Homo sapiens: one gene and its partner. The protein of the gene in region 2 interacts with the protein of the main gene of each other region in a pairwise test. Each region holds a gene or a part of one and is shown on either strand. Other genes may lie near its edges. The genes, in order: LETMD1 and BRI3BP.

Region 1 (15,888 bases), about 74 Mb from region 2:
TCCCAGCACTTTGGGAGGCTGAGGTGGGTGGATCACCTGAGGTCAGGAGTTTGAGACCAGCCAGGTCAACATGGCAAAACCCTGTCTCTAATAAAAATACAAAAATTAGCCTGGTGTGGTGGCATGTGCCTGTAATCCCAGCTACCCAGGAGGCTGAGGCAGAAGAATCGCTTGAACCCGGGAGGTGGAGGTTGCAGTGAGCGAAGATCATGCCACTGCACTCCAGCCTGGGTGACAGAGCAAGACTCCATCTCAAAAGAAAAGAATAAAAATTTAAAAAATTGAGAAAATAAAATAAATCAATGAACTTAATCTAGATGAACAAATTATGAAAACAAAGTTAAGGAAACAAAACAAGATGCAGGAAAATAAGTGCCACATGAAACAAATTACATGAATTTTTAAAACATTAAGAAATACCATATATATGTAAATGTTCATATGTATGTATATGTATGTGTATAGATGTATGTATGTATATATGTATGTGTGTGTAAATACATCATAGATAGATAGATAGACATTCAAAGAATTAAAAGCAGACTAGGCTGGGCACAGTGGCTCATGCTTGTAATCCCAGCACTTTGAGAGGCCGAGGTGGGCGGACCACTTGAGGTCAGGAGTTCGAGACCAGACTGGCCAACATGGCGAAACCCCGTCTCTACTAAAAATACAAAAATTAGCCAGGCATTGTGGTACAGGCCTGTAGTCCCAGCTACTCAGAGGCTAAGGCAGGAAAATCGCTGAAACCCAGGAGGTGGAGGTTGCAGTTAGCCGAGATTGTGCCACTGCACTGCAGCCTGAGAGACAGAGTGAGACTCTGTCTCAAAAAATAAAACAATTAAAAATTTTTAAAAAATGAAAGTAGGCTAATATAAAAGTGATGCCTAAAGGGAAGGAGAAAAGGAAGAGAATTGGACTTGGAAGGCGAAAATAGGTATGATACTATTTATTCATTTTGGGTAGTGGATACATAGAGAAATGTTATAGTATTCTTTCTTATTATCCTTTTAAAACATTTTTAATACATACAAAAGAAATAGGATTAGGTGGGTTTTTGGGAATTAGGTTTTACTCTTGCTCAGAGAGTATCATAAAACTGTATTAACCATTGGTTATTAAGACCCTTGGCCAGGGCTGGGCGCGGTGGCTCATGCCTGTAATCCCTGCACTTTGGGAGGCCAAGGTGAGTGGCTCACCTGAGGTCAGAAGTTTGAAACCAGCCTGGCCAACATGATGAAACACTATCTCTACTAAAAATACAAAAAATTAGCTGGGTGTGGTGGTGGGTGCCTGTAATCCCAGCTACTCAAGAGGCTGAGGCAGAAGAATTGCTTGAGCCCAGAGGGCGGAAGTTGCAGTGAGCCAAGATGGTGTCACTGCACCCAGCCTGGGCAACAAGAGTGAAACTGTCTCAAACAAAACAAAACAAAACAAAACCCTTGGCAGGGCTGGGCGCAGCGGCTCACGCCTGTAATCCCAGCACTTTGGGAGGCCGAGGCAGGTGGATCACTTGAGTTCAACACCAGCCTGGGCAACAGGCCAGGCTAGAAACCCTGTCTCTACTAAAACAAAATTAGCCAGTCGGGCATGGTGGTACATGACCTGTAGTCCCAGCTACTTGGGAGGCTGAGGCACCAGAATCACTTGAACTCAGGAGGTGCAGGTTGCAGTGAGCTGATATTCAGACACTGCGCTCCAGCCTGAGCAACAGAGCAAGACGCTGTCTCAATAAATAAATAAATAAATAAAACCCTTGGCCGGGTTCGGTGTGGTTCATGCCTGTAATCCTGGCAATTTGGGAGACTGAGGTAGGAGGGTTGCTTGAGGCCAGGAGTTTGAGACTGACCTGGGCAACATAGTGAGGCCTTGTCTCTACAAAAAAATTAAAACTCACTTAAAAAAAAAAATCCCTCTTTAAGACTGGGCCCAGTGGTTCACACCTGTAATCCTAGTCCTCTGGGAGATCAAGGTAGAAGAATCCCTTGAGGCCAGGAGTTTAAGACCAGCCTGGACAACATGGCAAGACCACCTCTCTATAAACAGATTAAAATACAAACAAAAACTCTTTCATTCTGGTATTTCCCCCCCAGTTCCTTGGGAAGAATAACTGTCCCGAATCAGCTTGTCAAATTTAGTGAATTAGTAACTAAAAGTGGCAAATCACTGCAGTTATTACCTCTGCTACAAAAAGAAACTTTACCTTTCCCTAAGGTTGCATTCTTCCATATCTTTGCACATATTGTTCCTTCTTTCTTCCTAGAAATGATACTCCCAGTGATACTTGGGTTTGGGGGCTCCAATCTTGTGCCATTTATTCCTACTACTTGTCTGCCAAGCAATCTCCAATTGACTCTCCACAACCTACTTCAAATCTGATGTTTCTTCACCTGGAAGCACCACTACTGCCACCACCATCAGAATTTATAAATTTACAGCCAGGCACAGTGGCTCACACCTGTCATCCCAGCTACTCAAGAGGCTGAGGCAGGGAGAAGTGCTTGAACCCAGGAGGCAGAGGTTGCAGTGAGCCGAGATCACACCATTGCACTCCAGCCTGGGTGACAGAGCGAGACTCTGTCTAAAAAAAAAAAAAAATTATGAATTTACTACTCCTTCAACTTTTTTTTTTTTTTTGAGACAGAGTCTCACTCTGTTGCCCAGGCTGGAGTGAAGTGGTGTGATCTTGGCTCACTATAATCTCCACCTCCCGGGTTCAAGCGATCCTCCCACCTCAGCCTCTAGGGTAGCTGGGATTATGGGCAAGCACCACCACGCCTGGCTAATATTTGTATTTTTGGTAGAGACGGGGTTTCACCACGTTGGTCAGGCTGGTCTCAAAGTCCTGACCTCAAAGATCTTCCCCCCTTGGCCTCCCAAAGTGCTGAGATTACAGGTGTGAACCACTGCACCCAGCTGCACATTTTAATGTAAGGCAATGCCTTACGTTTCCCAAGGAGAAGAACTAAAAGATAGTTTTTGGCCAACCTTTTATGAAGTAGTCAGATGTCTACTTTAAACATCTACTTAGTGGAAAATGTAAGTCTAATATTATTTAGCAACACATATTTTAAACCACATATAAAACATTTATTTAGAAATAATGCTTTTTCAGTCAAATTTTATATCATAATTTTATTCAAATCATCAATGTCATCATCATTCACGCCACTTTTATCGTTAACTAGCCCAATTTGCAGAGCAAGACATCCTTACATGTATCTAAGTTGAGGACAGTTTTTTTTTTTTTTAGTTCATGCTATGTTTGTATGTTCTTGGCTTATACAATATAATTTCTGTTTGTTTGTTTGTTTTTGAGATGGAGTTTTGCTCTTGTTGCCCAGGCTGGAGTGCAATGGCGTGATCTTGGCTTACTGCAACCTCCACCTCCTGGGTACAAGTGATTCTCCTGCCTCAGCCTCCCGAGTAGCTGGAATTACAGGCATGCACCACCACGCCTGGCTAATTTTGTATTTTTAGTAGAGATGGGGGTTTCTCCTTGTTGGTCAGGCTGGTCCCAAACTCCTGACCTCAGGTGATCCACCCGCCTCAGCCTCCCAAAGTGCTGAGATTACAGGTATGAGCCACTGCGCCCGGCATGTTTTTTGTTTTTTGGGTTTTACTGAAATAGATTCTGGGTTTGTCACCCAGGCTGGAGTGCAGTGGTGCAATCTCAGCTCACTGCAACCTCCGTCTCCCAGGTTCAAGCGATTCTCCTGCCTCAGCCTCCCGAGTAGCCAGGATTACAGGTGCTTGCCACCTCACCCAGCTAATTTTTGTATTTTTAGTAGAGACAGGGTTTCACCATATTGGCCAGGCTGGTCTCGATCCGCCTGCCTTGGCTTTTCAAAGTGCTGGTATTACAGCATGATCCACTGTGCCTAACCCTTTCTGGTTTTTTGTTTTGTTTTCTTGAGATGGAGTCTCCCTCTGTCACCCAGGCTGGAGTGCAGTGGCATGATCTCGGCTCACTGCAACCTCCCCCTCCCGGGTTCAAGTGATTCTCCTGCCTCAGTCTCCTGAGTAGCTGGGATTACAGGTGCACACCACCACGCCTGGCTAATTTTTGTATTTTTAGTAGAGACGGGATTTCACCATGTTGGTCAGGCTGGTCTCAAACTCCTGACTTCGTGATCCGCCCACCTTGGCCTCCCAAAGTGCTGGGATTACAGGCATGAGCCACTGTGCTCAGCCTCTGTAGTTTTTATTTTATTTTTGAGATGAAGTCTCACTCTGTCACCCAGGCTGGAGTACAGTGGCATGATCTCAGCTCACTGCAACCTCCACCTCCCGGGTTCAAGTGATTCTCCTGCTTCAGCCTCCAGAGTAGCTGGGATTACAGGCGTGTGCCACCACGCCCAGCTAATTTTTGTATTTTTGGTAGAGACGTGGTTTCACTATCTTGCCCAGGCTGGTCTCGAACTCCTGACCTCAAGTGATCATCCTCCTCAGCCTCCCAAAGTGCTGGGATTACAAATATGAGCCACTGCGCTTGGCCATATTCATTTAATAAATATTTAATAAGCCCCCCTTGTGTGCCAGGGACTGGAATACAGTGAGCTTAGACTCCTGTGGGGAAGATAGCCATGAAATGTATAATGACACAGCTAATTAATTATGATGTTAAGTACTATGAAAAATAAGTATAGCTAGCTACAAAGTGAGTAACAGGAACCTCAGTCTGTGGGGTTAAGAGTTTCCTGTAACAGAGCTGTTTATATACAGTGCAGCACTAACTCATATGCCCAGCCTGCCTGGGTTCAAATTCTGACTCAATCTTGAGCAGATTATTGAACCTCATTTTCCTCATGTATAAAGTGGAGCTAGGTCTGGCTTAGTGACTCACACCTATGTGAACCCAAAATATCTGAGACAGGTCTCAATCAATTTAGAAAGTTTATTTTGCCAAGGTCAAGGACATGACACAGCCTTAGGAGGTCCTGATGACACGTGCCCAAGGTGGTTGTGGCACAGCTTGGTTTTTCTTTTTTTTTTTTTTTTTGAGACAGAGTTTCGCTCTTGTTGCTCAGGCTGGAGGCAATGGCGTGATCTCGGCTCACCGCAACCTCTGCCTCCCGGGTTCAAGCAATTTTCCTCTCTCAGCCTCCTGAATAGCTGGGATTACAGGTGTATGTCACCATGCCCAGCTAATTTTTGTTTTTTTTTTTCTTTTTGAGATGGAGTTCCGTTCTTGTTGCCCAGGCTGGAGTGCAGTGGCGCAATCTCAGCTCACCACAACCTCCGCCTCCCGGGTTCAAGCGATTCTTCTCCCTTGGCCTCCTGAGTAGTTGGGATTACTGGTATACGCCACCAAGTCTGGCTAATTTTGTATTTTTAGTAGAGACGGGGTTTCTCCATGTTGGTCAGGCTGGTCTTGAACTCCCGACCTCAGGTGATCCACCTGCCTTGGCCTCCCAAAGTGCTGGGATTACAGGCATGGACCACTGCGCCAAGCCTAAGTTTTATATTTTTAGTAGAGACGGGGTTTCATCATATTGGTCAGGCTAGTCTTGAACTCCTGACCTCAGGTGATTTGCCTGCCTCAGCTTCCCAAAGTGCTGGGATTACAGGTGTGAGTCACTGTGCCCAGCCCACAGCCTTTTGTTTGTTTGTTTTTTGAGACACAGTCTCACTCTGTTGCCCAGGCTGGAGTGCAATGGTGTGATCTCAGCTCACTGCAACCTCCGCCTCCCAAGTTAAAGTGATTCTCCTGCCTCAGCCTCCTGAGTAGCTGCAGCTGGGATTATAGGCACGCACCACCATGCCCGGCTAATTTTTGTATTTTTAGAAGAGATGGGGTTTCACCATGTTGGCCAGGATGGTCTTGATCTCCTGACCTCGTGATTCGCCCGCCTCGGCCTCCCAAAGTGCTGGGATTACAGGCGTGAGCCACCGCGCCCAGTCGGAAACCTGAAAGGTTTTATAAAGAGAAATGACAAGCTTAGATTTGCAATTTTAAAAGCTCTCTCTGGTTACATACAACATGGAGAACTGGTTGGAGGGAGGACAAAACATATGGCAGGGAAACCAGTAAAGAGGCTGCTGTAGAAGTGGGGACCAGAGGCTTGCAGCTTAGCCTAGGGTGGTGGCAGAGAAGATAGAAGGAAGCTGGCTGATTGAAGAACAGCTAGAAGATAGAACCAACAAGATGCATGTGTGTGTGTGTGTGTGTGTGCGTGTGCACGCGCGTGTGTGTGTGTGTGTGTGTGTGTGTGTGTGTGTGTAGCGGGGGAAAGGGGGAAGAGGCCTAAACACTAAATAAATATCTCAGGAAAGGGCTGGGTGCAGTGGCTCAAGTCTGTAATCCCAGCACTTTGGGAGATCAAGGCAGGGGAATTGCTTGAGTCTAGGAGTTCAAGATCAGCCTGGCTAACGTGGCAAATCTCTATCTCTACTAAAAACACAAAAATTAGCTGGGCGTGGCGGCATGCGCCTGTAATCCCAGCTACTTGGGAGGCTGAGGTGAGAGGACCACTTGAGCCCAGGAGATCAAGGCTGCAGTGAGCCATGATGGGGCCACTGCACTCTAGCCTGGGCGACACAGCGAGACCCTATGAAAGAAAGAAAGAGAGAAAGAGAAAGAAAGAGAGGAAGGAAAGAAAGAAAAGGAAGGAAAGGAAGGAAGAGAAAGAAAGAAAAGTCTGAGGAATGACCTGTGTTCCTGCCACATTCTTTCATTGCATGAAATGCCTTCCCCTCTACTCCATCCTTTCAGACACAGTTCCTTCCTATTTTCTCCACAAAATTCTGATTTTGTCTCCTTTCCAAGAGAGTTCCAGAATTTTAGAGCTGAACATTCTTGAGTAGTTGACATGACTCAGAAGCTACCTGAAGATGGCTGGGCACGTTGGCTCACGCCTGTAATCCCAGCACTTTGCGAAGCTGAGGTGGGCAGATCACCTGAGTTCAGGAGTTCGAGACTAGCCTGGCCAACATGGTGAAACCGCGTCTCTACTAAGAATACAAAAATTGGACTGGGTGTGATGGCTCACACCTCTAATCCCAGCACTTTGGGAGGCCGAGGTGGGAGGATCACGAGGTCAGGAGATCAAGACCATCCTGGCTAACATGGTGAAACCCCGTTTCTACTGAAAATACAAAAAATTAGCCAGGTGTGGTGGTGGGCACCTGCAGTCCCAGCTACTCGGGAGGCTGATGCAGGAGAATGGTGTGAATCCGGGAGGCGGAAGTTGCAGTGAGCCGAGATTGCGCCACTGCACTCCAGCCTGGGCAACAGAGCGAGACTCCGTGTCAAAAAAAAAAAAAAAGAATACAAAAGTTGTCTGGGCATGGTGGCGGGCGCCTGTAAACCCAGCTACTTGGGAGGCTGAGGCAGGAGAATCACTTGAATCCGGGAGATGAAGGTTGCAGTGAGCTGAAATTGCGCCACTGCACTCCAGCCTGGGTGACAGAGTGAGACTCTGTCTCCAAAAAAAAAAAAAACAAAAAAAAAAACTACCTGAATATGAAGACCATGTCTTAGTCAACTTTTTTTTTTTTTTTTTTTTTTTTGAGACAGTCTCACTCTGTTGCCCAGGCTGGAGTGCAGTGGTGCGATCTTGGCTCACCTCAACCTCCGCCTCCTGGGTTAAAGCGATTCTCCTGCCTCAGCCTCCCGAGTAGCTGGGATTACAGGCGCCCACCACCACATCCGGCTAATTTTTGTATTCTTAGTAGAGATGAGGTTTCACCATGTTGTCCAGGCTGGTCTCGAACTCCTGACCTCGGGTAATCAGCCCGCTTCGGCCTCCCAAAGTGCTGGGATTACAGGCATGAGCCACGGCGCCCAGCCGTCTTAGTCAACTTTCTATCCCGTCCACCCCATCTACCCAACACTTGTGAAGATCCAGGGCCATCTTTTAAAACTTTTCCTCTGACTGCACGAGTGGTACAGTCATTAATAACCTGTGCTAATATAAAGCTCTGTGACCCATAAAGCATTATACAGATGTGGGAGCTTTCACAGCTGTATTCTCTTTGGATCCTCAAAGATTTCTTATAAAGTAGGTACTATTATAAGGGAAATAAACTCAGAGCTAAAGTGACATATCCAAGGTAACATTCACTAAAACAAACGTCAATGCCAAGATTGAACCTATATCCAGGGAACCCACATGGGATGCTCTACCACCTTCCATGAAGAATAAATATTCATATATATCCAAGAGGACTGTTAATTCTTGGAGGCAGTTAAGTACCACTTCTGGGAATCCTTCTTAGTTTCAAGTATGAATCTATTCAAACATGTTTACTGAACACCTACTATGTGCTAAGTAAGGCACCTAGTGTTGGAGGTGCAGCAATGAACAAGGCAGAGAAGATGCTTACCCTCATTCTAGTTCAGGGAGCTGTCAAACAAGGACACAAATACATAAACACTGTAAGTGACAGATGCTACAAAGAAAATACAAGGCCGGGTGCAGTGGCTCACGCCTGTAATCCCAGCACTTTGGGAGGCCAAGGCTGGCGGATCACTTGAGGCCAGGAGTTGAAGACCAGCCTGACCAACATAGTGAGATCCCGTCTCTACTAAAAATACAAAAATTAGCCGGGCGTGGTGGCGGACGCCTGTAATCCCAGATACTCGGGAGGCTGAGGCAGGAGAATCGCTTGAACCCGGGAGGCGGAGGCTGCAGTGAGCCAAGATCGCGCCACTGCACTCCAGCCGGGGCGACAGAGCAAAACTGTCACAAAAACAAAACAACAAAACAAAACAAAACAGAGTAACATGAGAATAAGTGTGAAGTGTGTCCTTTTCGCCGGCACTGCTTCAGATAGGGTGGTCACAGAAATCCTCTCAGAATAGTAACATTTAAGTTGAGACAGAGCTTGGTCTTCGGTAGGTGCTTAACGAAAACCATTTTCCCACAAACTTAGTTCTGGAAACGACAAAGAGAGGAAAAAGTGTACTCAGTCCGCACAGGGGCCGCTCCCAGGCCTCCAACCTTCGCCGCCAGACTGACTGGAAAGTGGACAGTTCCCGGCCTATCCACGCCGGCACCATTAGAGGGCGCCGCGGGTCCTCCTAGCCCCAGGCACTGGCAAACTGACATCTGCTACCTAACAGTCGAGGCTCCGACGCCCCGAGTCCAGGCAGAGGGCAAGGGCGGCGCTGGGAAGCCCTGAGGCCCTAAGGAATCGCGGAGGGTCACTGGGCGCCTCAAGGACAGGGTGCCCTCCGCGTCGCAAACCCACACCAGTGGCATAAGAACTCGCTCCCTCTGGGACACCCTGTTTCCGGCGCCTTTAAACCTGGAAGTACTGCTGTGTCCAATCCTGGCCCTCCTTCCGCACTTAGTCTTTGAGTCCTTCCCTCTCCTGGCTTGTGCTGGAGCCAAGCAGGCTATGGCTACCAATCAGCGCTCAGAAAAGACGCATGCGTCTTCGAACGAACGCGACGTACGGTTAACTTTGACCCAAAGACAACCTCTTCTCTCCCGCTTCTCTCGCTGTGAAGATGGCGCTCTCCAGGGTGTGCTGGGCTCGGTCGGCTGTGTGGGGCTCGGCAGTCACCCCTGGACATTTTGTCACCCGGAGGCTGCAACTTGGTCGCTCTGGCCTGGCTTGGGGGGCCCCTCGGTGAGGGACCTGTAGCGAGAAAAGCATTTTTGACGTCCAGGCTCTTTCAGTGTCTCAACCTTGCTTGCATTCTGTCTCTTAATTCTCAGAGTTCCACGCCTTGGCCCTGGAATTTTTATTCTTCTGTTCAGGATTCAAACTCCGATCCCCACTAGTGACCCGGCTTCCTGACCCTCTGTACTCTCAGTGCCCCATATTGTCTGGTTTCCCCGCGTGTCCTGAGCTCATCTTTCAGCCTCACTTTTTCGGCTCAGGTTTTACCGCTGCTATCTCGATTCCACCTCTTTCTGACTTAGCCTGCAGTTCAAATTGTCCCACAGGCATTGCGCTCTCTCCAGAGGCATACCCTGAGTTACTTTCCTGCCTGGCCTTTGCCTGATTTGTGTTTCACAGTCTGATTGCCTATCTCTTCTTGACCCCAAGACCTTCCTTGGATTTCAGAAGTGTCAAGCCTTGGGATACAATCTCCGAGACTCCTGCTTTACATTAGGGACTCAAGGCGTGAGGGAGCTTCTAGGACTGATTCCCAGATAGTCTCTTTGATCTTCCTTGTAGGTCTTCAAAGCTTCACCTTTCTCCAAAGGCAGATGTGAAGAACTTGATGTCTTATGTGGTAACCAAGACAAAAGCGATTAATGGGAAATACCATCGTTTCTTGGGTCGTCATTTCCCCCGCTTCTATGTCCTGTACACAATCTTCATGAAAGGTAAAAACGAAACTACAATAGAAATTCCGGAATCAGCTCTTGGGCAGGGTCAAAGAGTTAGCATAAATAAGATCATTTGCAGGTTCTGCTATGGGGATGTGAGCCGAGATATCTTATATTTCATAAATGCCTGCGCCTTAAACTAATTCCTATAAATTAGCACTTCTTGAGAATGTTTCTAGAAAGATGTTATGAGAAACAACTTATGACAGCAACATGAGGGAGGGAGAATATAGGTATGTTCTCGTACTTTCTTAACCACACACCTGGCTATAGTAGAAATTTTTTGCCTTGCACACGGCAGGGATCTGTGGCTGTATAGACCTGCCCTGTGATGTATCAGTTGACTTACCCATAGGAAAATGAGGTCTAACCCTTGTTATGAATCTATATTAGGTAGTATGTTGTAGTGGCAATAGCCCTACATAATACTTGGTTTCTAAATGTTTTGTTTCAAATCAGAGATCCTTAGTTACTAGGAGAAGATATGTATCGTGTCAAGTGTCTACTCTGGAGCCAGATTGCCTGATTCAAATCCCAGTTCGTCACTGTGCGATTGGACTAATTAATTAACCCCTCTTTCCTTGGTTTTCTTATGTGTAAAATGGGAGTAATGGAACCTACCTATTTATCACATGATTGTGAAGACTTTAAAAATTGATACATGTAAAGTACCTAGAACAGGTCCTGATCCCTAGTAAGTGCCAAGTAAATGTTAACTTATTTTCATCTAAATGTTACCTAACAGTATTATAAGTTGGTGCAAAAGTAATTGCGGCTTTTGGCTTTCAGTGGCAAAAACCACAATTGCTTTTGCACCAAATCTATAATATGCTCTATGCTTTTATCATAACACTATAATAAACTACATTGTCAAATCTGAACATTATCATAATTATTACTAGCTTCATGGACTTGAAAAATTACTTATCCTTAATTTGTAGAGATAAAATTGGCTGCTTTTTCTGTTTTCATGTAGATAAATAGGATCAAATGAGAGAAAGGGATGAAAGCATTTGTGTTTGTTTTTAAACTTTTTATTATGAATTTTTTTTTTTTTTGAGTCTCACCGTGTCGCCCAGGCTGGAGTGCAATGGCATGATCTCGGTTCACTGCAACCTCTGCTTCCCGGATTCAAGCAATTCTCCTGCCTTAGCCTCCCAAGTAGCTGGGAATACAGGCGCCTGCCACCACACCAGGCTAATTTTTTTATTTTTAGTAGAGGTGGGGTTTCACCATATTGGCCAGGCTGGTCTCTAACTCCTGACCTCGTGATCCGCCTGCCTCGGCTTCCCAAAGTGCTGGGATTACAGGCTTGAGCCACCGCGCCCGGCCAACTATTATGGAAATTTTTAAACACACACAGATGTAGAGAGAGTAGTGTAACAAACTTCCATGTATTAACCTCACTTCATTATCATAACTCATGGCTGCCAATCCTATTTATATACTTGCCTTATGTATTATTTTGAAGACAATCGAGACATCATATAATGACATGTAAATCATTGATAAATATGAAAGCATTAAAGAAATAGATGCAAGAAGCCGGGCGCGGTGGCTCATGCCTGTAACCCCAGCACTTTGGGAGGCCGGGGCGGGCGGATCATCTGAGGTCGGGCGTTTGAGACCAGCCTGACCAACATAGAGAAGCACCGTCTCTACTAAAAATACAAAATCAGCCAGGTATAGTGGCACATGCCTGTAATCCCAGCTACTAGGGAGGCTGAGGCAGGAGAATCTCTTGAACCTGGGAGACGGAGGTTGTGGTGAGCCAAGATCGCACCATTGCACTCCAGCCTGGGCAACAACAGTGAAACTCCCATCTCAAAAAAAAAAAGAAAAGAAAAAAATTAGATGCAAGAATTTTCATAAAATGAAAATTTAAAATGTAATCATAAAAATATATTGAACTAAACTACTTTAAAAAGTGTTCCAGGCTGGGCACGGTGGCTCACGCCTGTAATCCTAGCACTTTGGGAGGCCAAGGCGGGCGGATCATGAGGTCAGGAGTTTGAGACCAGCCTGGCCAACATGGTGAAACCCAGTCTCTATTAAAAATACAAAAATTAGCCAGGTGTGGTGATGGGCACCTATAATCCCAGCTACTCGGAAGGCTGAGGCAGGAGAATTGCTTGAACTCAGGAGGTGGACGTTGCAGTGAGCCGAGATTGCGCCACTGCACTCCAGCCTGGGCGACAGAGCAAAACTCCATCTCAAAAACAAAAATAAGTGTTCCAGGCCGGGCGCAGTGACTCATGCCTGTAATCCCAGCACTTTGGGAGGCCGAGGCAGGTGGATTGCTTGAGGTCAGGAGTTAAAGACGAGCCTGTCCACATGGTGAAACCCCATCTCTACTAAAAATGCAAAAATTAGCCAGGCATGGTGGCACACGCCTGTAATCCTAGCTACTTGGGATTCTGAGGTGGGAGAATTATATAAACCTGGGAGGTGGAGGTTGCAGTCAGCCGAAATCGCACCACTGCACTCCAGCCTGGGCAACAAAGTGAGATTCCATCTCAAAAAAAAGAAAAAAAAAGTTCCAGAAAGGAGATTAAATTAATATCTGGCTGGGGAATACATAGGGTTAATTTAGCAAGACTTTCTGAAGTTAGGGAGCTTGATTTTTAAAAAGGAGTGACCAGTGAAACAGAAGAGGGAGACCATTCCATAGCAGATTACAGAAGCCAAATGTAGCTAGAAGAGAGGCGATGTGCTAGGGGAAAAAATGTTGAGAAAAGAGATTCGAGTTGACCTCAGGAGTTTCAAGTTACCTAGTTTAAAGCTTTGAGTATCGTTGGGGAGGGGTGAGAGTGTTTGCATGTGATTGAACATGGAGTAGGAAGCTGTGGTTAAGATTTAAACTGGGATAACATCACACTCTGTCCTCTACTTTAATGAGGCAGGATTGCAGATGTTATGGGCTGATGCCAAAAAGGCTAGAAGAATAAAGACAAATATGTGGAAGCACAATATAAAGTTTCATCAACTTCCATACCGGGAGATGGAGCATTTGAGACAGGTATGGGCCAGGGGCAGATATCCAGAAGTTCATGGTGAGGTAATTACATTTAATCAAGATCTCAAGGTTTTTTCTTTCATTTGTTGTTCACCATTGATCAAGCTTTTGCCCTTTGCCGTGAGAACAAAATATTGAACTGAATGAGGCATCAGATTATTTGTAAGAATTGGGTTCATCCAGAGTTGTAGCCCTCCATAGCAAGAGCTCCATAGAATTTCTGGCACACTTTCTGAATGAAAGTTGTAAATACTAAAATCTAATTAGTTTCTGAACATAACAAAAGTCTGCAAGGGGGCTGGGCGCGGTGGCTCACGCCTGTAATCCCAGCACTTTGGGAAGCCGAGGCAGGCAGATCACGAAGTCAGGAATTCGAGACCAGCCTGGCCCACAAGGTCAAACCCCATCTCTACTGAAAATACAAAAATTAGCTGAGTGTGGTGGCGGGCGCCTGTAATCCCAGCTACTCGGGAGGCTGAGGCAGGAGAATCGTTTGAACCCGGGAGGCAGAGGTTGCAGTGAGCCAAAATCATGCCATTGCACTCCAGCCTGGGTGACAGGGCAAGACTCCATCTCAAAAAAAAATAATAATAAAATGAAAATAGAAGTCTGCAAGGGCAGCCAGGCACAGTGGCTCTCGCCTATAATCTCAGCATTTTGGGAGACTGAGGTGGGCGGATCACCTGAGGTCAGGAGCTTGAGACCAGCCTGGCCAACATGGTGAAACCCCATCTCTACTAAAAATTCAAAAATTAGCTGGGCATGATGGCAGGCGCCTGTAGTCCTAGTCCCAGCTACTCGGGAGGCTGAGGCAGGAGAATTGCTTGAACCTGGGAGGCGGAGGTTGCAGTGAGTGAAGATCGCGCCACTGCACTCCAGCCTGGGTGATAAGAGCAAAACTCTGTCTCAAAAAAAAAAAAGTCTGCAAGGATCCAAAGGGCAGCATGAAAGTAGTATTTGGTGGTGACTTGATGGGTCGTTTTGAAGCTGAGAGTAAGAATCTAGGACCCATTCCGCAGATCAGGAAGAGTTCACTGAAGGATTTGGTATAATGTCAGGCTCTGTACTAGACATTATTTGGGATACAAAAGTAAATAAGTCAGAGGTTTTGTCCTCAAGGAACTAACCATCCAGAAGTAAATAGAAATAAACTTGGGGACCACATGCAGTGCTCATGCCTGTAATCCTAGCACTTTGGGAAGCCAAGGCGGGCAGATCACTGGAGGTCAGGAGATTGATACCAGCTTGTCCAACATGGTGAAACCCTGTCTCGACTAAAAATACAAAAGTTAGCCTAGAGTGGCGGCTTATGCCAATAATCCCAGCTACTCGGGTGGCTGAGGCAGGAGGATCACTTGAACCCAGGAGGCAGAGGTTGCAGTGAGCTAGGATTGCACCACTGCACTCCAGCCTAGGTGACAGAGCAAGACTCCATCTCAAAAAGAAAAAGAAAGAAATTTGGTCCTTTTTCTGGGCTGTAATAGAAGTTTACTGTACAGTGGGGTGGATGGATTGTCTATTGTATTAACAACTTATTTGGGTTAAAACTGCATCTGTGTTTATTTCTGCTTAGTTCCGCCAAGACGTCACCAAGTGTCTTTTCCTAGGTATTATTTCCATTCCACCTTTTGCCAACTACCTGGTCTTCTTGCTAATGTGAGTACAGACTTCCATCTCCCCAACATCTTGAAGATGTATCAATTTTTTTAAATTAAGAATTACTTTAAACAGCACTCATTTCAGAAGATAGGCAGAGGTTATCAAACTTCTGCTCCAATCTTCTCATTATTCCAAGGTTCATAAAAACCACTTAGGAAGACCTTGGTTACTGTGACACATCACAGCTATAAGTGTAGGTGGCCTAGACTCTCCCTATCTCTTAGCTGCCCTGAGTCATGTGAAATAAGATAGTGACCTTCTCCATCATCCCTAGAGGCTCTCTCCCCGAGAGAGAGTACTTTTAGACTAATTTCTTTAGGAAAAGTACATTTCGTATTCTGATAACATTTTTATTACTTCATATCCAAAAATGACATTTCTTAACTGTGATCTTGCATGTCATTCATTATCTATTGCTGTATAACAAATAACTTCAAAGCTTAATAGCATAAAACAATCGTATAAATCATTTTCATGATTTTGTAGCTCAAGAATTAGGGCAGTGCTCAGGTGGGCAGTTGATTTCTCTCTTCCATATAGGGTTGACAGAGGTCCCTTAGTGATATTTAGCTGCTGAATGGACTAGTCTGGAAAGTCCAATATCACTCTTATGTCTGGTGCCCTGGCAGGGATGGCTACACGGCTAGAACTGTCAACCAGAGTGCCCAGATGTGGCTTCTTCAGTATGGCAGCCTCAAGATAGTGGGACTTCTAACTTGGGAGCTCAGGGCTCCAAGAGTGAGGGGTTCTAGTAAGAATCTACATGACTTTATAACCTTGTCTTGAAGGTCACATAGAGTCACTGCTGCTCTGTCCTATTGATTGAATCAGTCACCTAGAATGAAAAAAGGGCAGGATGTAGACCTCAGCTCTCCATGAGACAAGTGCCAGAGAATTTGAGGTCATGTTTTAAAACCACCAAAC
Region 2 (15,519 bases):
TCAGGTGATCCACCTGCGTTGGCCTCCCAAAGTGTTGGGATTACAGACATGAGCCACTGCGCCCGGCCTTCTACTCCTTTTTAGCTACTTGGCCATGGCAGCGCTAGGGAAGTCAGACGGTGCCCCTTTGCTGTCAGAACGTGCAGGGCCACTCGTGTTTTCTTTAGGATTTTCAGGGCCTCGGAGTGACGTTGCTTTGGACCACCCTTCCTTGGTTTAAAGGACAGCTTTCACTGAAGTCACCGAGAGGTGGAAGGCAGGGGTGGCATTCTCGTCTCTGGGCATCTTTCCTGGCTGATCACTATCTTGGCCCCTTGATGACACGATGCTTCTCAAAGTATGCTCAGAGGAACCCCAGGAGGTCCCTGAGACCCTTTTGGTTAGGAGGGGTGACTGTGAGTTCCTCTCTTCTCCCGTAACATGTCTCTGAGGTCAGGGATTCAGTACGTACTTTAATACTTCCATATATATTGATGCCACGTTAAGATGATGACATTTTAGATAGATTGGATTAAACAAAATATCTTATTAACATTAATTCCACCCTTTTTTTTTTTTTTTTTTTTTTGCCTTTTTTGCTGTGAGTACTTGAAAATTTTCAGTGACAAACATGGCTCACATTTGTGGCTGGTGTTCTGTTCCTCTGAATTCAAAACCAGATTTGGGGGCCAGGTCTCCTCTAAATAGCTAGATAGGAAAGAGACTGGCAAACATTCAAAGCACTGCCACTGTTCTCAGAGTGGTTTGTTCTGCTTTAGAAACAGTTGCTTTTTGTGAAAAATATTTTGTGTTAACCTATTGTCTTGGTCAGTTCAGGCTGCTATAACAAAATTCCATAGACTGTGTGGCTTATCAACAACAGACTTTTTTTTTTTTTTTTTTTTTTTTGAGATGGAGTCTCTCTCTGTTGCCCAGGCTGGAGTGCAGTGGCGCAACCTCAGCCTCCCGGGTTCCAGTGATTCTCCTGCCTCAGCCTCCTGAGTAGCTGGGATTACAGGCATGCACCACTATGCCCGGCTAATTTTGTATTTTTTTTAATAGAGACAAGGTTTCGCCATATTGGTCAGGCTGGTCTCGAACTCCTGACTTCAGATGATCTGCCCACCTTGGCCTCCCAAAGAGCTGGGATTACAGGCATGAGCCACCGTGCCCGGCCTAACAGACATTTTCATTTCTTACAGTTTGGAGGCAGGAAGTCCAAAATGAAGGCACTGGCAGATGCAGGCTGTGGGGAGAGCCCTTTCTTGTAGACGATGCCTCACTGTGTCTCACATGAAGGAACAAGGCGGTTCTCTGGGACCTCTTTATAAGGGCACTAAACCCATTCATGGGGGCTCCACCCCTACGACCTGATCACCTCCCCAGGACCCCACCTCCTAAGACCATCACTTTTGGGGTTAGGATTTCAACATAGGAATTTTGTGGGGGACACAAATACTCAAAGCCTAGCATCTGTAATGGGTTGTTATTTGAAAATGAGTTAATGATAGCAATGTTTTTAAATTATTAACAATGGCTGGACACAGTGGCTCATCTGGTAATCCCAGCACTTTGGGAGGTTGAGGCAGATGGATTGCTTAAGCCCAGGAGTTTGAGACCATCCTTGGCAACACAGTGAGACCCTGTATCTACAAAAAATCAAAACATTAGCTTGGTGGTGCATGCTTGTAGTCTCAGCTACTTGGGAGGCTGAGGTGAGAGGATCGCTTGAGCCCAGGAGGTAGAGGTTGCAATGAGCTAAGATCATGCTACTGAAGTCTAGCCTGGGCTACAGAGCAAGACTCTGTCTCAAATAAATAAATAAATAAATAATAAAATTTAAAAGATAATTAACAACTAATTAAAAACTACCTAATTTTCTGCTATGGAAAATATATCAGTTAGGTAGAACCCACATAAACGAAAGCTCTGGGGACGCTTCAATAATACTGAAGAGTGCAAACGGTCTTGAGACTGAGAGGTCTGGGAAACACTGGTTTAGCCTCCAGTCTGCAGGGGACAGGTGTGAAAGTCAGCTCCCAAGTCAACCACATTTAGTCAAAATGCTCACGATGCCTCAGGAAGGCACAGTGTAGCAAACACACTCTGGCTTCTGGGGAGTCCTGGTGACCCCAAGCCTTTAGTCCCAGAGATGGCTGCTGTTTACAGTGTTGGACTCTAGACACTGGCCAGCTGTGCGGAGTCTGATCATTTTGGGGAACTATGAGATGTTCACGCCGTAGGTGTCGTTATTGACCGGAGGAGCTCCAGGGTTGAGGCTTCCCATCTCAGGCCTGCTCTGGATTTGCGCTTGCCCACTCCAGATCGTTGTGTCACACTTTGGTCCTCTTTGGCTGGGCGTGGTGCCTCACACCTATAATCCCAGCACTTAGGGAAGCCAAGGCAGGCAGGTTGCTTGAGCTCAGGAGTTCGAGACCAGCCTGGGCAACATAGCGAGATCCTATCTGTATTTGCTGGTTTCCACACTGCTATAAGGAACTACCTGAGGCTGTGTAATTTATAAATAAAAGAGATTTAATTGACTCACAGTTCCACATGGCTGGGGAGGCCTCAGGAAACTTGTAATCATGGCGGAAGGCAAAGGGGAAGCAAGGCACGTCTTACGTGGTGGCAGGAGAGAGGAAGCAAGAGCGAGGGGTAAACTGCCAAACACTTTTAAACCATCAGATCTCGTGAGACTCACTCACTTTCATGAGAATAGCATGGAGGAAACCACCTCCACGATCCAATCACCTCCTACCAGGTCCCTCCCTGGACACGTGGGGATTACAATTTGAAATTAGATTTGGGTGAGAACACAGAACCAAACCACTTCACTGTCTCTACAAAAAAATACAAAAATTAGCCAGCTGTGGTGGTGCATGCCTATAGTCCTAGCTACTCGGGAGTCTGAGGTGGGAGGATCGCTTGAGCCCAAAAGGTCAAGGCTGCAGTGAGCCGAGATCACACCATCACACTCCAGCCTGGGTGACAGAAAAAGACCCTGTCTTAAAAAAAAAAAAAAAAAAAAAAGACCACAGATTCTTGGGCCCACCCAGGACCTACTGAATCAGATGTCCTGGGGGTGGGGCCCAGCAACCTGTTTTCCTAAGCCCTCCAGGGGATTCCTGGAGGAATCACACAAGTTTGAGAACTGCTTGTGTGAGAAGGCTTAGGATATAACTCTCCTTGAACTCATTAAACAACACTGTCAGGAAACAAACAATTGCAGCATGTGGGACCTCCTGCAAGAAAACCATCCTGGAAAAATTAGACTTCAGAATTTCAGTGTTTCTAAAATGTCATGGGTCTCTTCTCAATTAATGGAGACTAAAGTGATGGCAAATGCTGAACGTGAACTGTCGCTGGGTCCTGGTGAGGGTTGGGAGGAAACAGCTATTCCTGGATAACTGAGAAATTCAAGTGATGTTATATGGAATTGTTAATTTATTATTTATTTATTTATTTATTTATTTTTTGAGACAGAGCCTCACTGTGTCTCAGGTTGGAGTGCAGTGGCGCCATTGGCTCACTGCAACCTCTGCCTCCCTGGGTTCAAGCGATTCTCGTGCCTCAGCCTCCCAGGTAGCTTGGATTACAGGTGTGCGCCACCACGCCCAGCTAATTTTTATATTTTTAGTAGAGATGGGGTTTCACCATGTTGGCCAGGCTGGTCTCAAACTCCTGATCTCAGGTGATCCACCCACCTTGGCCTCCCAAATGCTGGCATGAGCCACCGTGCCCAGCCTGGAATTGTTAATATTCTTAGAATGATGATAGTATCATGGTTTTGAGGTGAATGATGTCTTTATTCTTAGATGTATGATGAAGTATGATGTGTACATCTTTCAAATGGGTTAATCTAAAAAGTATGTAAATAGAGAATGCAACATTCAGAATTTTTAATAATTGTTCAGTCTAGTTGGTTTCAAAAGGAATATTCTACTGTTCTTTTAACTTTTTTGTTTGAATTTCTTCAAGTCAGGCACACAGAAGATGCTACTCTTACATTTCACTGCATTCTTGAGATGGAACTTCGTGTGTGGGTACCAGTTAGGATCAGGTTTGGCTGAAACAGAAATCCAACATAACATTGGCTTAACCAAGATGGACACCTATTTCCCTCTTATATGAAAGTTCTCAGGGAGGTGGTGAGGCGGGTTTGATGGCTCTGATGCATGTGGTGCTCTGGACCAAAGCACCTTCCATTTTATTGTTCCTCCATGAGTGCCTTCCAAAATGGCTGCTCCAGTTCCAGCCATTGTATCCATGTTCCAGCAGGCAGAAGAGGTAAAGGACACATTCCTGCTACTTTTAGGGAACACATGGCCAAAGCTTAGTTATGTAGCTGCAAGAGAGGCTAGGAAATGCTTTAATCCTAGGTAGTTGTGTGCCCAGCCTGAAGGTGGGCATTTGTTACTATGGAAATTGAAGGACAATTTGCAGGCTATGCCCCACTTCCAGAGGTGTTTTAGTAAAAGGTGAAAGTTGTCTTTTGAGACAAAGTCTTACTCTGTCACACAGGCTGGAGTGCAGTGGCACATTATGGCTCACTGCAGCCTCTACCTCCCAGCCTCAAGTGATCCTCCCACCTCAGCCTCCTGAGTAGCTGGGACTACAGGTGTGTGCTACCACACCTGTCTAATTTTTTTAAAATTTGTGTTCTCTAGAGATTGGGTCTGTATTAGTCTATTTTCACACTGCTATCAAAACATACCCGAGGCCAGGCGCAGTGGCTCACACTTGTAATCCCAGCACTTTGGGAGGCTGAGGAGGTGGATCACTTGAGGACACTAGTTCAAGACCAGCCTGGCCAACATGGTGAAACCTCATCTCTACTAAAAATACAAAAATCAGCTGGGTGTGGTGGCATGTGCCTATAATCCCAGCTACTTGGGAGACTGAGGCAGGAGAATTGCTTGAACCTGGGATGCAGAGGTTGCAACGAGCCAAGATTGTGCCACTGCACTCCAACCTCAAAAACACAAACAAAAAAACCAAAAAACCTGAGACTAGGTAATGCATAAATAAAAGAGGTTTAATTGACTCACAGTTCTGCGTGGCTCAGGAAACTTATAATCATGGCAGAAGGCAAAGGAGAAGCAAGCACCTTCTTCACAAGGCAGCAGGAGAGAAAGAGAGAGCAAAGGGGGCAGCTGCCAAACACTTAAACCATCAGATCTCATGAAACCCCCCCCCCTCCACTGTCACAAGAACAGCATGGGGAAACCACCCCCATGATCCAATCACCCCCCACGAGGTTCCTTCCTCCACACGTGAGGATTATAATTCAAGATGAGATTTGTGTGGGAGCACAGAGCCAGTCCATATCAGGGTCTCACTATGTTGCCCAGGCTAAAGGTGAAAGATGTATATGATTTGAAGAGAAACCAGTATATGGAGAGGTTTTTAAAACTCAACATGGCAGGTCGTCTTAAAGGGCTTCCCTGGCTGGGCATGGTGGCTCATGCCTGTAATCCCAGCACTTTGGGAGGCCGAGGCAGGTGGATCACCTGAGGTCAGGAGTTCGAGACCAGCCTGATTAACATGGAGAAACCCCGTCTCTACTAAAGATACAAAATTAGCCGGGTGTGGTGGCGCATGCCTGTAATCCCAGCTACCCCGGAGGCTGAGACAGGAGAATTGCTTGAACCCAGGAGGCGGAGGTTGTGGTGAGCCGAGATCACACCATTGCACTCCAGCCTGGGCAACAGAGCAAGACTCCATCTCAAAAAAAAGAGGCTTCCCTGTGTGTCCTCATGGAGCAAAGTGTGACTATTCACAGAGGAACTTCCTTGAGTTCCTTTGGTTGTTGCAAAGGCCTTTTAAGCCCCACAGGCCAGCTCAACTATCCAATTCTAGCTTGTTAAGAAACCCCTGGCCCCTGCGTAACGAGCCCTGTTCCTCTTTTCTGTCCCGCAGTCTCCAACCTGTCCCAGTATTTCAGCCCAGCCTCGGTGTCCAGCAGCCCGGCCCGCGCGCTCCTGCTGGTCGGCGTCGTCCTCCTGGCCTACTGGTTCTTGTCCCTGACCCTGGGCTTCACTTTCAGCGTCCTGCACGTGGTGTTCGGCCGCTTCTTCTGGATCGTGCGGGTCGTCCTGTTTTCCATGTCCTGCGTGTACATCCTGCACAAGTACGAGGGCGAGCCGGAGAACGCGGTGCTGCCGCTGTGCTTCGTGGTGGCCGTCTACTTCATGACCGGGCCCATGGGCTTCTACTGGCGAAGCAGTCCCAGCGGCCCCAGCAACCCCAGCAACCCCAGCGTGGAGGAGAAGCTGGAGCACCTGGAGAAGCAGGTCAGACTGCTCAACATCCGTCTCAACCGGGTGCTCGAGAGCCTGGACCGCTCCAAGGACAAGTGAAGGTCAGCCGGCCGGGCGGGTCCACAGTTACCAGCACGCTGTCTCAGAAAACGAAAACGGAGGAAAAAAACCCCAAACCCCAAACAATCTTAATAAACACGACTGAGCAAGAAAGTGGCGCTGTGTAGGGCTATTTCCACCCACCCGGCAGCTCTTAGGACACATTCCCAGAAGAGCGGAAAGATCATTGACGTGGAACTACACACGAAGTGTAATTAGTGGGGGAAAAAATATTTTTTAAACAAAGGATATAACCATATTTAGTTGTACAGTAAGAGAAATTTATCTGTGCATAGAGCATAAAGTTAATTTTTTCAAGCATTTAAATACATCTTTTGTAAGGTTTTTTAATAAAGGCAGATTGAGTCAAGTTTATTAAAACTTTACATGGAGGGGAAGAATATGCTAATTTGACATTTGAGAAAAGTTTAAATGCGAGCGTTTGTTTTCACAGCTTAGGGATTGGTGGGTGAGGTCTGTGTGCGTTATTTTCATGTTCCCAAACTGTGAGCTTTATTTCATGTTATTTTTGGTGGATGTTGACTTAGTTCATGAATGTTGTCACTTCTAAATGTGGACAGTTGGGCTGCAGGATGCAACTCAACCTCTTTTGGATCCTAGAGACCCCTGCCAAGCCCCCATCAGTCCTATTTTTAAATGAAGACATCGCCATTTCTAGAAGACCTGAGATTTTCTTCCCTCTGTGCTTCGATGTATTTTAACCTCAACATTTTGAAACGGAAAATGCAAGGAGGGGCCAAGAAATGTCCTGGGGATTTGATGCCAGGAAGTACCTGGTAAGGATTGGAGATTGCTCCAGAATCTACTGCATGTCCCAATTTGCAGTTTGCTCACTAGGGCTATATACAAAAGCTATACCCTTGAGGGTTTTTTTTTTTTTCTTTTGATTTCCTCAGGACCTTAGAGGGAAAACAAACAGTAGCAGCTAATATTCTCAAGTATATTGCTGCTTAGAAAGATCCTCAGGAACAATTAGCAGCAATAAGCAAGCCTTTGAAAAGATCTGAATTCTTTTTCCTGAAATATTTACGATACACAGGTGCTTTTTATCTGAAATCTGTTGTGTCCTCCTTTTAGGCAGTCTCTGTGGGCAGAGAGTGGGACTTGCGAGGTGGACAGCTGTGGGGATCCTGGGCAAGGGAGTTTCAGAAGGTGTGGCTCAGGGGCTGGTAGAAACCCCCTTTTGTTAGGACTTGTTTTTTAAAAAAGAAAGCCCTAGGCCAGGCGCAGTGGCTGATGCCTGTAATCCCAGCGCTTTGGGAGGCCGAGGAGTATGGATCACCTGAGGTCAGGAGTTCAAGACCAGCCTGGCCAACATGGTGAAACCCCCGTCTCTACTAAAAATACAAAAATTAGTCAGGCATGGTGGTGGGTGCCTGTAGTCCAGCTACTCAGGAGGCTGAGGCAGGAGAATTGCTTGAACCTGGGAGGTGGAGGTTGCGGTGAGCCGAGATCACGCCACTGCACTCCAGCCTAGGCAACAGAGCAAGACTTCATCTTAAAAAAAAAAAAAAAAGCCCAGCATTTTGCAGCTTTGAAGCTGCTGGGGATCACGACTGTCTCTGTGGCCCTTACCTGGCCACAGATGTACCCTGGCAACCCGCTCACAGTGCCCTGCGTGCAGGTTTATAGATAACCCCTGCCAGACCTGCTACAACCAAGACCTTATGGTCCAGGTCTCAGTTTGGAGAAGATTTAGCTGTCTACCACTTCTTGTGTAGTGTTCCTGTGAAGTTTTATTTTTGGTTGCAAGTATCTGGAAAACAGATGCAGATGTTTTTGTGGATGTTGTTGAGACTTTTGAGACTTCTGTTTCTAAGGTACACATGATGGGACCCAAACTCTCCTGGAGAGTTCCATTCACTTCCTGAAACGTGCACCTGTTTCAGGTGCATGTTTATTCAGTGTGCATGGATATTTAAGATTTGCTGGAGCAGGCTGGGCAGGGTGGCTCACCCCTATAATCCCAACACTTTGGGAGGCCAAGGCAGGTGGATCACCTGAGGTCAGGAGTTTGAGACCAGCCCGGCCAACAGAGTGAAACCCCGTCTCTACTAAAAATACAAAAATTAGCCAGGCCTGGTGGTGGGCGCCTGTGATCCCAGCTACTTGGGAGGCTGAGGCTGGAGAATCGCTTGAACATGGGAGGCGGAGGTTGCAGTCAGCTGAGATCATACCACCACACTCTAGCCTCAGCAACAGAGTGAGACTCCGTCTCAAAAAAAATTATTTGCTGGATCGAATCTTTTTTTTTTTGAGATGGAGTCTCACTGTCAACCAGGCTGGAGTGCAGTGGCACCATCTCGGCTCACTGCAAGCTCCGCCTCCTGGGTTCACGCCATTCTCCTACCTCAGCCTCCCAAGTAGCCGGGACTACAGGCGCCCACCATCATGCCCGGCTAATTTTTTATATTTTTAGTAGAGACGGGGTTTCACCGTGTTAGCCAGGATGGTCTCGATCTCCTGACCTCGTGATCCGCCCGCCTCGGCCTCCCAAAGTGCTGGGATTACAGGCGTGAGCCACCGCGCTGGGCCTAGATCAAATCTTTATCCATGCACATTGGAACACAGGATTACTGGGTTGAAATCATTCTAGTTTTGTCATTTAGATACTTGTAGATGAATCTATTTTAGCACAAGGTATAAATAACTCGGGAGGTCATCTCTATCTTCTTTCCTTTTGTGCATTTGGCTATACCACGTTTAGGTACTAAAACAGCTTTGCTTATGTTGGCCAGGGGAAAACATGGCATTCTGTGCGCAAAGCTAATGATCGCCAGCCCTGCCTTGGCCCCTCCCTTGTTTATGGTCATTGTAAGATGCCCGCATGTTAAGGCTTAAGCTGTCACTGGGCTGGGTGTAATACCCGCTTCATTCCTCCTCCCACCCTCTTACCCGAAACATGAAGGGCACTGTGCTCTATTGAGATCTCGATAAGATCATCATTTTAACTTGTATTCAACTGAGGGAGGTAACATGATATCTGGGTGCTGGTGGATTGAGACCTCAAGCATCAATTCAAAATTGCTGTCGAAAATATGCACTATTTTTTTTTTCCACTCTGGCTAAGTGTAGGCTCTGAAGCCAGTTTTATAGCTTGATACATTCTGGTGAAAGATGTCTTCATTTTTAATGAAAGAACCTACAGTTAGTAGGTGTCACCTCAGGGTAGAAATTCTGATAGAAATTCTGATTATTTGAAACTCTGATAGAAATCCTAGATGCTAGATTTGAAGAAAACCTGGGTTTTATTGCATAGATTTCACCTTTTCTGGGGCACATCTTACCCCAAAATAATTGGGGATTTTTTTGTTCCTTCTCCATTCCATGGAACCTTGTAGGGTGTTGGGATTGGGCCTCCCCTCGCCACCCGCCACATGTCTTTGTTTTTTTCTCTCTTTTGTATGTGGAAAAATGTATTTTTGTACCATATCTCATACCTGGAGAGAAACCTTTTTTCTATCTTCAGGGCTGTAGAATATATTAGCGTAACACTTCACTGAATGTGACGTAAAAGCATTCTGATGAAAACTGGTTCTGTTATAATTAAGACTCAGTGTTTAAAATATCTTAATCAGTGTTAATTTCCCAGTGTTTCAGTATCACAGTAAATACTTGTTTTACTGAGAACAGAAAATAATCCAGAAAAGGAAAAGGACCAGCCCTCTCTAGATTGCTGGAATTGTATGGATGTGTTGGGGTTGGTTTAGTGATCTCTTCCTTGACACCCTAGCAAAGATGCTTTTGTGGAGTGCAAACCTTTCATAAATATACTTTCCAGGCTGGGTGCAGTGGCTCAAGCTTGTAATCCCAGCACTTTGGGAGGCCAAGGCGGGTGGATCACTTGCGGTCGGGAGTTCGAGACCAGCCTGGCCAACATAGTGAAATCCCGTCTCTACCAAAAAATACAAAAAAAAAAAAAAAAAAAAAAATAGCCAGGTGTGGTGGTGGGTTCCTGTAGTCCCAGCTACTCAGGAGGCTGAGGTGGGAGAATTGTATGAACCTGGGAGGCAGAGGTTGCAGTGAACTGAGATCACACCACTGTACTCCAGTTGAGGCGACAGAGTGAGACCCAGTCTCAAAAAAAAAAAAAAGTGTGTGTGTGTGTATATATATGTATATATATATACACACACACACACTTTCCAATACCAGTCGGCATTACCCGCCCTTTGGTTTCTTTTGCTTTGGATTTCAGCCCCCATATCATTTCTGGTAACAGAGCACAGCAATAGAATTTCTGGGAAGCAGACCTTGTGAATCGTGCCTGTGTCTTAATTCACAAAGGGTAAGTGAATGCCGTTGAAAGGTGTTTCATACACTTACCCCAGAAATGAGAGCCTGTCTCATGCAGGAGTCGGGAGGCAGCGATGTCAGGGAACTGGGACTATGTCTTTATGACTGTGATGGTGGTAACCAAGTGGGGTGGTCCCCTCTGGGGAGCTGAGTAAGAACGCAAAGGTTTGGGTCAGTGATTAGGAAGACTATAATATGACTTTGTGCATGCCCGGGAGGGCTGCCTTGTAGAGAGGATGTGAGCAGCTTAGTCGCTCATCTGGCCCTGTGATTCAGGCTTATGGAGCGTTAAGAATAACAGCTGTCAAATGGCCTAGACATGGTTAATGCAATTTGTTGCTAGTGGAAATCCTGAATTGCTTCCTTTCTGTGATCACTGCTACTTCTTAAGATGCTTTTGATGAATGTCATCTGCCTTACAAGTTGACACCTGATAACTTCTCCCTGATGGGTTTCCGAACTGGCTGACTTAACCAAAAAGCCAGCTCTTGCCATCTATCTTGCATTAAAAGGAATTCCTGAGGCTCCTAAGGGGTCAGCTGCCCCACTCCTGACTTTTTTATTTTTAATGGTCTATACCTTCTGCAACATTTTTGTTTATGGCCATTTGAATAGTTGGACTTTGACTCCTCACTTGTGAATAATAGGAATATATTTTGCAGAATCTAACATAATACCCTTAAAATTCATACTGGACAACCATCAGTGTGATGTATAGTATCTGGTGTAAACAAATTTTATTCAGCATATTAAATTATTCTGTGTTTTGCTTTTCCTTGATATGTAGGAGGTGCACCAGTACCAGTTTTTCTCTTGTGGTGGCTTAAAACGCTGATTGCCATTTGCATTGTCTACTGAAAAGCTGTGGCAGCGAGTGGTATTATTGACCATGTGTTCTCATGTCTTTTTGCAGATTTAAAGGTTTTATTGTAGTGTCCATTTAATATCTGCATGTGTGTTTAATCTCTGAATACCATGTAATTAAACTGATTAACTTGTGATGGTGATGGTGATTAGCACACACTAAAAACCCAATGAAGCAATTGTCTCCCTCTTCTTAACTGGAAATCACACTTGTGAGGTATGGTATCCATTATCAACAGTGGATTCATGATTGACTTCATATTTTGTGTATCTGGTTATAAATTTTGTATAGCATTTAATTTGGCACTTAATATAAATCCATTTGATTTGAATAGTGTGTGTGTGTACATGGTGTGTGTGTGTGTGTGCACTTTAGTTTCGTGAGCCTTGGGAAACTGATTCTACAAATATCTTATATAGAGATAAATGTATCAGGCATTTTTTTGCAAAGCGATATATACATTCCTCTTATTTATTAAATCACTGGCTTTGGTGTTATGTAGAGATATTTGTAGATCTCAGAACAGAATTAAAATATTGTGAAAATTACAGCTTAATAAATGTTTATTGTAATTTTGTTGTATGGACTTTTAAAATATATCTCATCACTTCTAACCAAACATTTGTGGAGTTTCCCCAGTTTTGATGTGTAACCAGGATTCTATGGTTCTATTCCTCGATCTGAGAAGAGTCATAAAACCTTGAATTTATGTATTCAGTTGGAGGTAAGGTTGCAAGATAAAATACAGGATGCCCAGTTAAATTTGAATTTCAGATAAACAACCAGTAGTGTTTTAGTATAGTGTAGAAGTGTTGGTTGCTTATCTGAAATTCAAATGTAAGCAAGTTTCCTGTATTTTTAGTTGCCAAATCTGACAGTCCTAGCACAGTGATGCGTGCCTCTCCACCCCACCCCGCATACCCATGCTGCTTTCTCAGGTCCTAACAATCCTTTTCTTTCTATTTTTTTTTTTTTTTTTTTTTTTTTTTTGAGATGGACTCTCACCCAGGCTGGAGTGCAGTGGCGAGATCTCAGCTCACTGCTGCCTCCATCTCCTGGGCTCAAGCGAGCATGTCCGGCCAATTTTTGTATTTTTAGTAGAGATGGGGTTTCACCATGTTGGCCAGGCTGGTCTCCAACTCCTGACCTCAGTGATCCGCCCGTTTCGGCCTCCCAAAGTGCTGGGATAACAGGCGTGAGCCATCATGCCCAGCCTTAAAAATCCTATTCTTAGTAAACATTTAGGAGCAAATGTAACAGGAGTATAATTTACCTTGACCAAGTATAATTACTCTTAACCCAAGAGTACTGCTCCTGCTTTTTACGCAAAGACAATCTCACATAGGTCGATAAGGGGACAATTTGAGGCTAGTTATTGTGAAGTTATCTGGGGGCAGCCTGGGTGGCCTGTCACTGGGAAAGCAGGCAGGTGAGCGGGGGCGGTGAGGCACTGGAGGACGTGCAGTAGGTAGTAATGACAGTAACAGCGTGGGGTGAGAAGGAAACCAGAATGAGGAGGGGCAGCTCATTTGAATAAAGTCAATACCTGCTATTAAAATAATCATTTTGGCCGGGTGAGGTGGCTCATGCCTGTAATCCCAGCACTTTGGGAGGCCGAGGCGGGCGGATCACGAGGTCAAGAGATCTAGACCATCCTGGCTAACATGGTGAAACCCCGTCTCTACTAAGAATGCAATTAGCCGGGCGTGGTGGCAAGTGCTTGTAGTCTCAGCTACTCGGGAGGCTAAGGCAGGAGAATTGCTTGAACCCAGGAGGTGGAAGTTGCAGTGAGCTGAAATCGCGCCACTGCACTCCAGCCTGGGCGACAGAGTGAAACTCCGTCTGAAAAACAAACAAAAAAAATTACTATTTTGTGGCCGGGTGCAGTGGCTCACGCCTGTCATCCCAGCACTGGGAGGCCAAGGCAGGTGAATCGCTCGAGTCCAGGAGTTCAAGACCAGCCTGGGCAACATAGTGAGAACTTGCCTCTACGAAAAGTAAATAAATTAGTTGGGTGCAGTGGCGCCTGCCTGTGCCTGCAGTCCCAGCTACTCGGGAGGCTGACGTGGGAGGATCGCTTGAGCCCAGGTGGTTGAGGCTGCAGTGAGCCATGATTGCACCACTGCATTCCAGCCTGGGGAACAGAGTGAGATCCTATCTCAAAATATAATCATTTTGTAAGAATGCATTGAAAGCAACATTCGAATTAAACACCATAGGCCGAGGAGGAGGAGGGAGTGGGTTATCGGATGGGGATTAAGAGGAATGTCAAGTACAAGAGGAATGAGACTTCACAGGAGAAGTCACCGAGGGCAGTGTTCCTCGGACCTAGAGGGTGCCGGGAACCCTGCCCCAGCCTGACCAGCTACAGCCTCACCATCTCCCACTGCCCCTTCTGCCCGCTGCCAATCCCGCTGCAGCCCCAGAGCAGCTGGCGGCATTGCTACCAGCCCCTTTGCACCTATGAAGGAAAAATAGAATCTCGGGATCTCAAACTCATTATGCCAAGGGCAAAGTTAAGCTTGGGAACTGAGCCACAAAACAAACAAACAAAAAAAACAAACACAAACTTCCTTCCTTTGCTTCCCAAACAGATAGCTGCCTACTTTATCTTGTGTAAAATGTAGATTTGGGCTGGGTGTAGTGTCTCAAGCCTGTAATCTCAGCACTTTGGGAGGCTGAGGCAGAAGGATCACTTGAGCTCAGGAAGCAGAGGTTGCAGTGGGCCGAGATGGCGCCCCTGCACTCCAACCTGGGCGACGGAGTGAGACTCTGTCTCAGAAAAATAGATAAAAATGAATACATAAATATACATAAAATGTAGATTCATGAGTGCTCGTCAAAGCCGAGTGAGACTCAGCCCTGCCTCACTGCCTACCATTCCCCACATTTTTCTTCCATCCTTCCCCTCCTGCTTGCGCATTCCCCTTTAAATATTTAAGTCCTCAGAACCCATTTTGGAAACAGCACAGGCCACAGATCCTACTGTGACTTATGTTTCTTTTCCTTGGGCCCGGCGTCAACCTTGACAAAATAAGCCACTAATCCATTGAGACCTGCCCCAGTCACTTTTTGGTTTACACTCCTATTTCTAACCAAGGCCCCCTGTACTGTTTTGTTTTTCTGGTTTTTTTTTGTTTTTTTTTTTGAAACAGAGTCTCATTCTGTCACCCAGGCTAGTGTGCAGTGGTGAGATCTCGCCTCACTGCAACCTCCATCTCCACGGTTCAAGCAATCCTCCCACCTCAGCCTCCCTAGTAGTTGAGATTACAGGCGCACACCACCACACCCAGCTAATTTTTGTATTTTTTAGTAGAGATGGGGTTTCACAATGTTGGCCAGGCTGGTCTTGAACCCCTGACCTCAAATGATCTGCCTGCCTCGGCCTCCCAAAGTGTTGGGATTACAGGCGTGAGCCACCACCCAGGCTGTTTTTGTTTTGTTTTGGTTTGAGGCGGAGTTTCACTCTTGTTGCCCAGGCTGGAGTGCAATGGCACAATCTCAGCTCACCGCAACCTCCGCTTCCTGGGTTCAAGCAATTCTACCGCCTCAGCCTCCCAAGTAGCTGGGATTTCAGGCATGTGCCACCACACCCAGCTAATTTTGTATTTTTAGTAGAGACGGGGTTTCTCCATGTTGGTCAGGCTGTTCTCGAACTACCGACCTCAGGTGATCTGCCCGCCTCGGCCTCCCAAAGTGTTGGGATTACAGACGTGAGCCACTGCACCCAGCCCCTTTTTTTAAAAAAAGAAAAACAAAAACAGCTTTATCAATGTAAAATTGACATACAATAAGCTGCACATGTTTGAATGTAACTTGGATAACGTTTCATATATGCGTACACCATGGACATCAAACTTGCCACAATCAAAATAGCAAACATGTCCATCACCTCAGGGCCCTTTGGGGTCCCTCTCACTGCTCTCCATCCCCAGGCAACCTTTGAGCTGCTCTCTGTCACTAGACATTAGTTTGTATTTTTTTTTTTTGGGCTGG

What was found.
Region 1: the proteins of BRI3BP (region 2) and LETMD1 interact in binary tests that used the Homo sapiens proteins (3 or more experiments, as listed by UniProt).

The regions. Positions count from the first base shown.
Region 1 is NC_000012.12:51,038,900-51,054,787, forward strand, and holds the start of LETMD1 (LETM1 domain-containing protein 1), read left to right. Parts: upstream 1-9,427; 5' UTR 9,428-9,457; coding exon 9,458-9,579; exon of another isoform or gene 9,580-10,113; coding exon of another isoform or gene 10,114-10,134; coding exon 10,135-10,286; intron 10,287-13,188; exon of another isoform or gene 13,189-13,192; coding exon 13,193-13,308; coding exon of another isoform or gene 13,309-13,347; intron 13,348-14,878; coding exon 14,879-14,961; intron 14,962-15,888. UniProt on the Homo sapiens protein: Plays an essential role for mitochondrial structure and function, as well as thermogenesis of brown adipocytes.
Region 2 is NC_000012.12:125,019,090-125,034,608, forward strand, and holds the end of BRI3BP (BRI3-binding protein precursor), read left to right. Parts: intron 1-5,901; coding exon 5,902-6,341; 3' UTR 6,342-12,142; downstream 12,143-15,519. UniProt on the Homo sapiens protein: Involved in tumorigenesis and may function by stabilizing p53/TP53.